2 separate regions of the Homo sapiens genome follow, and region 2 is reported to be linked to region 1. The links are microRNA targets in miRTarBase. Many come from high-throughput screens and were not tested one by one. Region 1 holds a microRNA gene; the other region holds the end of a gene's coding sequence. Distances are from middle to middle.
The links. Region 1 holds the annotated microRNA hsa-miR-3908 (GAGCAAUGUAGGUAGACUGUUU, at 2,350-2,371, opposite strand). A microRNA usually pairs through its seed, bases 2 to 8, with sites in the 3' UTR of a target mRNA and lowers its output. Matches are read on the target gene's strand: a 7mer-m8 pairs with bases 2 to 8, a 7mer-A1 pairs with bases 2 to 7 and ends in A, and an 8mer does both.

Region 1 (4,394 bases):
AATCCACCTGCCTTGGCCTCCCAAAGTGCTGGGATTATAGGACTGAGCCACCACACCTGACCTAAAAACTTTTTTTATAGAGATCGAGTCTCACTACACTGCCCAGGCTGGTCTCCAACTCCTGGGCTCAAGTGATCCTCCCTCTTCCACCTCCGAAAGTGTTGGGATTACAGGCGTGAGCCACTATGCCCAGCTAGTTTTGTTTCAAGTCACCAAGTTTGTGGCAATTCGTTATAGTAGCTACAGGAAATCAGCACACCTTTCCCTGCCTCCCTGTCTTTAACTTAGAAAGTGGACAGCAAGGCCAGGCGTGGCTCACACCTGTAATCCCAGCACTTTGGGAGGCCGAGGGGGGCAGATCACGAGGTCAAGAGATCGAGACCATCCTGGCCAACATGATGAAACCCCATCTCTACTAAAAATACAAAAATTAGCCAAGTGTAGTGGCACATGCCTGTAGTCCCAGCTACTTGGGAGGCTGAGGCAGGAGAATCGCTTGAACCCTGGAGGCAGAGGCTGCAGTGAGCCGAGATCACGCCACTGCACTCCAGCCTGACAACACAGCTAGACTCAATCTCAAAAAAAAAAAAAAAAAAAAAAGAAGAAGAAGAAAAAGGGGACAGCACTGGCCAGGCACAGTGGCTCACACTGTAATCCCAGCACTTTGGGAGGCCAACGTGGGTGGATCACCTGAGGTCAGGAGTTCGAGACCAGCCTGGCCAACATGGTGAACCTTTGTATCTACTAAAAATACAAAAATTAGCTGGGCATGGTGTCAGGTGCCTGTAGTCCCAGCTACTAAGGAGGCTGAGGCAGGAGAATTGCTTGAACCTGGGAGGCAGAGATTGAAGTGAGCTGAGATTTTGCCACCGCACTCCAGCCTGGGTGACAGAGCGAGAATCCGTCTCAATAAAAGAAAAAAGAAAAGAAAGGGGACAGCAATAATATGTCAGCTTCATTTGGGTTGTTGGAAGGATCCAGAAGGTTTAGAGTGCTTAGCACGTGTAAGGAACAAGGATGAGAAGGTTATGGCACAGACTCGAGGCCAGACTGCGCAGGTCTGACCCTGAATTTACCTTCACCAGCTGCCTGGCTTTGGGTGAGCCTTTTAACCTCTCTGTGCCTCAGTTTCCTCATTTGTAAAATAAGATAATAAAATTTACCTCTTAGGATGTTATAAGGCAGAAGTTCTGAAACTTTTTGGCCTCAGAGCCCCTTTACACTAAAACAATATTTAAAGAGTTTTTGTTTGTTTGTTTGTTTTTGTTTTTTTTTGTTTGTTTTTTTGAGACAGAGTCTCACTCTGTTGCCCAGGCTGGAGTGAAGAGGCATGACCTTGGCTCACTGCAACCTCCGTCTCCTGAGTTCAAGGAATTCTCGTGCCTCAGCCTCCCTAGTAGCTCGTATTACAGGCACGGGCCACACACCGGCTAATTTTTATATTTTTAGTAGAGACAGGATTTCACCATGTTGGGCAGGCTGGTCTCAAACTCCCGATCTGAGGTGATCCGCCCACCTCAGCCTCCCAAAGTGCTAGGATTACAGGCGTAAGCCACTGTGTCTAGCCTTGAAAGAGCTTTTGTTAGGTGAGTTATATCTGCTCATATCTACTGTAAATAGAAATTTATAATCCCAGCTAACTCAGGAGGCTGAAGTGGGAGGACCGCTTGAGCCCAGGAGTTTGAGGCTGCAGTGAGCTACGATCGCACCACTGCACTACCTTGGGCAACAGAACTAGACCCTGAAAAGAAAGAAAGAAAGAAAGAGAGAGAGAGGGAGGGAGGGAGGGAGGGAGGGAGGGAGGGAGGGAGAGAGAAAGAGAGAGAAAGGAAAGAAAGAAAGAAAGAAAGAAAGAAAGAAAGAAAGAAAGAGAAAGGAAAGGAAAGGAAAGGAAGAAAGAAAGGGGAGGGGAGGGGAGGGAAGGGAAGAAGAAGAAAAAGAAAAGAAAAGAAAAGAAATTTAAACTGATGCTTTAAAAAATATTAATTAAAAAATAGTCCGGGAGGATGGCTTATGCCTGTAATCCCAGCACTTTGGGAGGCTGAGGCAGGCAGATTGCCTGAGGTCAGGAGTTCGAGATCAGTCTGGCTAACATGGTGAAACCCCCTCTCTACTAAAAATACAAAAAAATCGGCCAGGCATGGTGGCATGCGCCTGTAATCCTAGCTACTTGGGGGCTGAGGCAGGGAAATTGCTTGAACCTGGGAGGTCGAAGCTGCAGCGAGCTGAGATCGAGCCACTGCACTCTAGCCTGGCGACAGAGGGAGACTCTGTCTCCAAAAAAAAAAAAAAAAATTAGTAAACACATTACACGTTAACATAAATTTTTTTAACTTTTTATTTTTTTAGAAACAGTCTACCTACATTGCTCAGGCTAGACTAGAACTCTTGAACTCAAGGGATCCTCCCACTGGAGTAGCTGGAACTACAGGCTCACGCCACCGTGCTAGATAACGTATGAGTTTTTTTGTTGTTTTTGAGACAGGGTCTCCCTATGTCACCCAGGTTGGAGTGCAGTGGTGTAATCACAGCTCACTGCAACCTCTGCTCCCTGGGACTCAAGTCATCCTTCCACCTCAGTCTCCCGAGTAGCTGGGACTACAGGCACTTGCCACCAGAGTCGGGTAATTTTTATTTAATTAATTAATTAATTTATTTATTTATTTATTTTGAGACAGAGTCTCGCTTTGTCACCCAGGCTGGAGTGCAGTGGCACGATCTCGATCTCAGCTCACTGCAACCTCTGCCTCCCGGGTTCAAGTGATCCTCCTGCCTCAGCCTCCTGAGTAGCTGGGATTACAGGCGCCTGCCACCACGCCTGGCTAATTTTTTTTTTTTTTTGTATTTTTAGTAGAGATGAGGTTTCACCATGTTGGCCAGGCTGATCTTGAACTCCTGACCTCAACTGATCTGCCCCCCTTGGCCTCCCAAAGTGCTGGGATTACAGGCATAAGTCACTGCAACCAGACTTTTTTTTAAATAGAGACGGGGTTTTGCCATGCTGCCCAGGCTGGTCTCGAAATCTTGGGCTCAAGTGATCCTCCAGCCCTGGCCTCCCAAAGTGCTAGGATTACAAGCATGAGCCACTGTGGCCAGGAGTATTTATTTTTATTTTTTATTTTTCTGAGACAGAGTTTCGCTCTGTCGCCCAGTTTGGAGCATAGTGGTGTGATCTCAACTCACTGCAACCTCTGCCTCCCAGGCTCAAGGGATCTTCCCACCTCAGCCTCCCAAATACCTGGGACTACAGGCTCTCACCACCACGTCTGGCTAATTTTTTTATTTTACTTTTTTTTTTTTCTTTTTTTTTTTTGAGACGGAGTTTCGCTCTTGTTGCCCAAGCTGGAGTGCAGTGGCACGATCTTGGCTCACTGCAACCTCTGCCTCCCAGGCTCAAATGATTCTCGCGCCTCAGCCTCTTGAGTAGCTGGGATTACAGGCACATGCCACCATGTCTGGCTAATTTTTGTATTTTTAGTAGAGGCGTGGTTTCACCATGTTGGCCAGGCTGGTCTCGAACTCCTGAGCTCTAGAAATTTTCCCACCTCGGCCTCCCAAAGTGCTGGGATTACAGGCGTGAGCCACCCCGCCTGGCCTTAATTTTTTTTTTTTTACTATTTATTTATTTATTTATTGTATTATATTATTATTTTGAGATGGAGTCTTGCTCTGTCACCCAGCCTGCAGTGCAGTGGCGCGATTTCGGCTTGCTGCAACCTCCGCCTCCCGGGTTTAAGCAACTCTCTGCCTCAGCCTCCTGAGTAGCTGGGATTACAGGCATGCGCCACCATGCCCGGCTAATTTTTGTATTTTTAGTAGAGACGGGGTTTCACCACCTTGGCTAGGCTGGTCTTGAACTCCTGACCTCGTCCACCTCAGTCTCCCAAAGTGCTGGGATTACAGGCGTGAGCCACCGCGCCCGGCCAACTTTTAGATTTTTAATCAATACGTGCCACGTTGGGGTGCGCTTTATGGCTACAAGGGCATTAAGATTTCTTCCCTCAAGGAGCCAAGATCTGACGGTGGAAACCTACCTGCAACCACACGGTGAAAACTCAGGATGCTAAGAGCAATCCTGATGGGGCAAGCAGGGGACTGTGAGTTTGCAAGGGGGTCCTTAACTCCTGCGTGGGGGGCGGGGAGGGTGGATGGGGTTCTGGGTTCAGGAAACGTTCTCCCGGGAGTGGGAGGGGGTCTGATGGACAAGTGGATTTGGCCAGCCCAAATGGACAGGGGGCCTTGGGACAAGAGAACTCGTGGTGCTGGAATGCCAAGCGGGCTTCGCTCTACTGTGAAGTGGCGTTCATGTCACAAGGAGCCAGTGATGGATGTGGCTCGGGGAGGCGCGCCCTGGGGCTCCGGGGATCCAGCATTCCTCGACACGTCGGCCCCTC
Region 2 (4,394 bases), 12 Mb from region 1:
TTTCACCATGTTGACCAGGCTGGTTTCAAACTCCTGGGCTCAAGTGATCCACCTGCCTGGGCATCCCAAAGTGTTGGAATTACAGGCGTGAGCCACCGTGCCTGGCCCAGTTTTTCTACCTTATATAACTTACAACAAAGGGTACTTGAAAGAGTAATGATGCTAAAGCAATAGGGTTTCCATGAAGAATCACATCGAAAAATACCCATTCGTGATGACCTTTTGCCTTCTTTGCATTTTATGCAATTGAAAATGACCCACTGTGTTCTGATGGAGCTTGCAATGAGACCAAAGGTAATGGCAGCTTTAACTTTTATCTGAGAACTAGAATCTGGGGGGATGGTTTTTAAACAAGACTAATTATTCTTGTCTCCTCCTTTATAGGAAGAGAGAAAATTTTCAAAGACTGTGCAAGGGAAGGTGCAGAGCAGTTATCTGCACTCACTTCTGGAAATGGGGGAGCTGCTGAAAAAAAGACTTGAGACCACAAAGAAACTAAAAATTTAAGGAAGTATCTATCATGGGCACTGATGACTCTGCAACAGAATATGACACCATCTTCCCAGGCAAAAGCAACATCTGGTTGACCATGATTTTAATCCAGAACTTCCTCATAAAATGCATGAAGGACTTTGATCGTGAATTTTTTTAGGTGTTAAATATATACAACTGATTAAATTATTGTATATAAACCAGAAGCGGGACCCTCATCTGGGTTTGACCACTTTTTATACATGTTCATATGCATATGGCAGCAACAAGAGAACCCTACTTTTCTTCTTCCCATCACCAGAAACATCTTTTCAGGGGAGCGGGGGGTCTATAAAAACAGCAATAGAAATTAAGCATAAAGCATCAACCTCATAGCAACTGAATAGCCCTTCCATTATAAATAACATTGAGAGTTTTTGGTCTGGTCCTTGAGCCACAAGAAGTGGAGGGGAGACCATGCCTGGGAACAGACCCCCTTTTCACAGCAGTAAGTTTGTTTTGAGGCTTTCTCAGCTACTTGGCTCCCACAGAACCCAAGGCAGGTACACAAAGGACCTTAGATGAGATCTGGCATATGCACCCGCAATAGAAGGGCACCACTTGGATGACCACAGGCACTTAGTTTTTGGCTAGTTTTTGTCTGATAGTTAAGACATCCCCATCCTAGCTTCTGTGAGAGTTAAAAATCTCAGGTAAGAAGGCAAGGAAGGCTCTGTTAATTTATAGCTGTTTAGAGGGGAAAGCAGTGCAGACCACTTATTAAGCCCGCTGAGGACTAGCTTTCTGTCTTTCATACATTTGGGAAAGATAGGAATGACTGTTTCAAAGAAGAGAGGTGCACATAATTTATGCAGGCAAGTATGATACTTATTTCATTGGTTTTGTGAGTCATATATATACATATATATATATACACATATATATATGACTTGAAAATTAAGATTTAATACTTTAATGTTTTAAGTGTGGGGGGTTTGGGAAGGAAGGAATGTAATATTATGGATTTAGCCTTAGGCTTTAAGTTTTAGGCTGGCAAAAGAAATGTTATTCAGTGGGTTTGAGGTTTGGACTACTTTCTTCAAACTTAGAGAATTATAACAGGATGGTGTTTACTTTGTTCACCTGGATGTCCCCAAGACTCTAGCTTCTTCTATCAGTGGTTGGTCTGATAGAAGAGGTAAAAATTGCTCTTGAAAATGTCCTACAATTTATGCAGTTTCTTTGATAATATTTTTCTGTTTAAATCCCTGCTTCTGTTTTTGGTCTGTTACCTAAATATAGTTCAAGTTTAATTCTGTAAGAGCAAAGAAATGAATTTGATGAGGAAATTAAGCATCCAATGGAGGATTGGTCTTGAAGACCTTAAAGGTGCTTTCCAACCTGCACTGCTCCAGTGAAATGTGGTACTTTTTTCTTTTAAAAGCAACCAAGAGAGCTGGGAATATCTGTGTACGCAAAGTAATTGCATTTTGTCCCTTCATTTTGACTTTCTTAGATTCATAATTTGATACAGTGCTTAAACTTCCAAGGAAATTTTAAACAATTACTACATTACCTGTTCAAAATAAGGCTTGTTGGAAATCCTAGTCCATCAACTAATTTCAAAAATTTATTTTTGATATGAGTAGCAACAGCTGGTCATATACCCTATCCCAAAAGGAAGAACTGTCTTGAACAAGATGAATGGAAAATTGTGGTTAATTCTGAATTTCATGTAATGACAACATATTCTTTCATAAAACTATGGCCTGTTTAAGATGGAACTTTGTGTGTGTCTGCTGGGGAGGGTGGGGTACATGTGTATGGCGTGTGTTCTTGAAATGATGTCTCTCTGAATATCCAAAAAAGTACTGTACTGTAGAAATGCTCTTTGAAAAAGTCTATCGACTGACCATGATCAATCTAGCATATGTATGTTCAGTGGGCTAGCCTTGGTCCTCAGGGACAGTGTGTGACTCTAGTGGTCTTCCTAACCAGTCTCTTGCCTAAAGATATCTGGGACCTCTACTGGCTTTAATGACAAATAATGTTATGTTGAGGTTATGCTTCCTTTGTTATTTGCTGATTTTCCTACTAAATGTAGCATTTCAATTAGATCCAGCTTTCACATTTTGAGATAATTGTAAAAAGAATGAAATTATGCAGAAATGGCCAATATCTCTTATCAATCTGTTCTTTTGGAAACCCTCATGTACTATAAATTGTGTACAGTTAAAAAAATATATATATATATATATTCTTACATGAGTAAAAAGCACCCTCTCCCAGCAATCGTATGCCATTGGTATTTGAAGAGAATTCCCAAATAACCCATTGCTGCTGCTGCTGTTTTTGATTTGTATGGGTTTTTTTGTTTTGTTTGTTTTTGTGTGGTAAACTGATATTTAAAAAAGGAAAGGAGAAAAATCACGACTACTGTTTACAGACTGAAAAATTATTGCTTTTTATACTACTGAGATCCTAAGTTAAGACTCTCCAAAGCAAACATTTGGTTTAAATCATTTATCTGATGTAGATAAAAGGTAGAGAAACTTGTAGTGTTCTCCACATAATGGAAAATGTACAAATGCCTAGTTGTGTTGCCCATCAATTTTGTATATTTTCATAATTTTAATTGTTGAAAATTGCATTATATTTTGCAATCACTATGTTCAATCTGGATTTGTCTTTCATTTTAACTTTTAATATAAAAAGGGGTTTCAATGTATCTACAGGCTTGTTATTGAAACTTCCTACTTATTTGATGTGATTTATTAATATAGGAAGTATATATTCTTCCTTAAGTAAGTGAAGCATAGCAAATCTACTTTAAACTGGATGGGTTAATTTATATAAACATTTTCATTTTAAGTTGGCATTTCTGCCTGGTTCCTTTTTGTTCAGATTCTTAGAAGCCACAACCTTCTGAATGGTGTAATTCATCTCAGTTGTGAATTTAGGGCTATATCCCAACATATTTTTAATATTTGAGAATTTAGAATTTTTATTTGAAGTCAGCTAGTCCTTTTGACTCAAAAGTTAGTACCTTCTGTACTTGCAGTTATTAATTCAACATATATGTATTGAACACTTAAATTAGCATATAGCAGATTCCACTTTAGGCTCTGGTGAGACCCTGTGTCCTAGTTAGTAAGTGAGTAACATATATCCTAGTTAGTGGCTGTGAGGTGGGGAAGAGGCAATAAAAATATTAGTTTGTAATTACATCCTGCTTAATAATGTAAATCACAGTATGTGAATTGAGTGTGTCTAGAGGGTCACTTCAGAATGGGTCACAGGAGGACCTCCTAAGTGGTGACCTCTGATCTGAATGATGAACTGTCAGGAAAAAAGTAACACACATGCAAATGCCCCAAGGCAGGAAACTGCTGAGCCGGTTCCAGGAAGTGAAAAAATGTTCAAGTGGCTGGGACTTAATGAAAGGGGTAGGATTGAGATAGAAAGTTGAGTAGGGATGAGAGCCATCAGGACTTAGTAGTCCGGGGAAGGAATGAGATTTTATTCTAAATTTAGTGGGAAGTTACCAGAGGATTTCAGGCAGGCTGATGACATGATTTATCCAAGGGTACTCGAACCCACAAGCTGGGATTCGGAACTTATTCAGGTACATTGACAACACAGTGAAAGTAGGAACTTAGCTCTTTTTTACTTTCTGTCCTGTGATATTGTCTTGTATGAGCCCCAAAGAGTCAGTTTTTGCCTGTTTCTTCAGTTATGAATTAACTCCATCCCAAGGTTTTTCTTTTATTTTTTTGAGACGGAGTCTCGCTCTGTCGCCAGGCTGGAGTGCAGTGGCACGATCTTGGTTCACCAGTCTCGGCCTCCTGGGTTCAAGTGATTCTCCTGCCTCAGCCTCCCGAGTAGCTGGGATTACAGGCGTGTGGCACCACACCCAGCTAATT

Region 2: miRTarBase lists NAA25 as a target of hsa-miR-3908. Seed matches in the 3' UTR shown: 7mer-m8 at 2,804-2,810.

Annotation. Positions count from the first base shown.
Region 1 is chr12:123,534,390-123,538,783 of GRCh38, reverse strand. MIR3908 (microRNA 3908) reads right to left here and starts at 2,375; the gene lies at 2,250-2,375. RefSeq lists silencers at 4,137-4,322, 4,342-4,394.
Region 2 is chr12:112,025,644-112,030,037 of GRCh38, reverse strand. NAA25 (N-alpha-acetyltransferase 25, NatB auxiliary subunit) reads left to right here. Exons shown (of 24, transcript NM_024953.4): 24 at 385-3,349. The coding sequence ends at 507. Among named protein-coding and RNA genes, the nearest start is that of MIR3657, 9.9 kb to the left of the region's middle.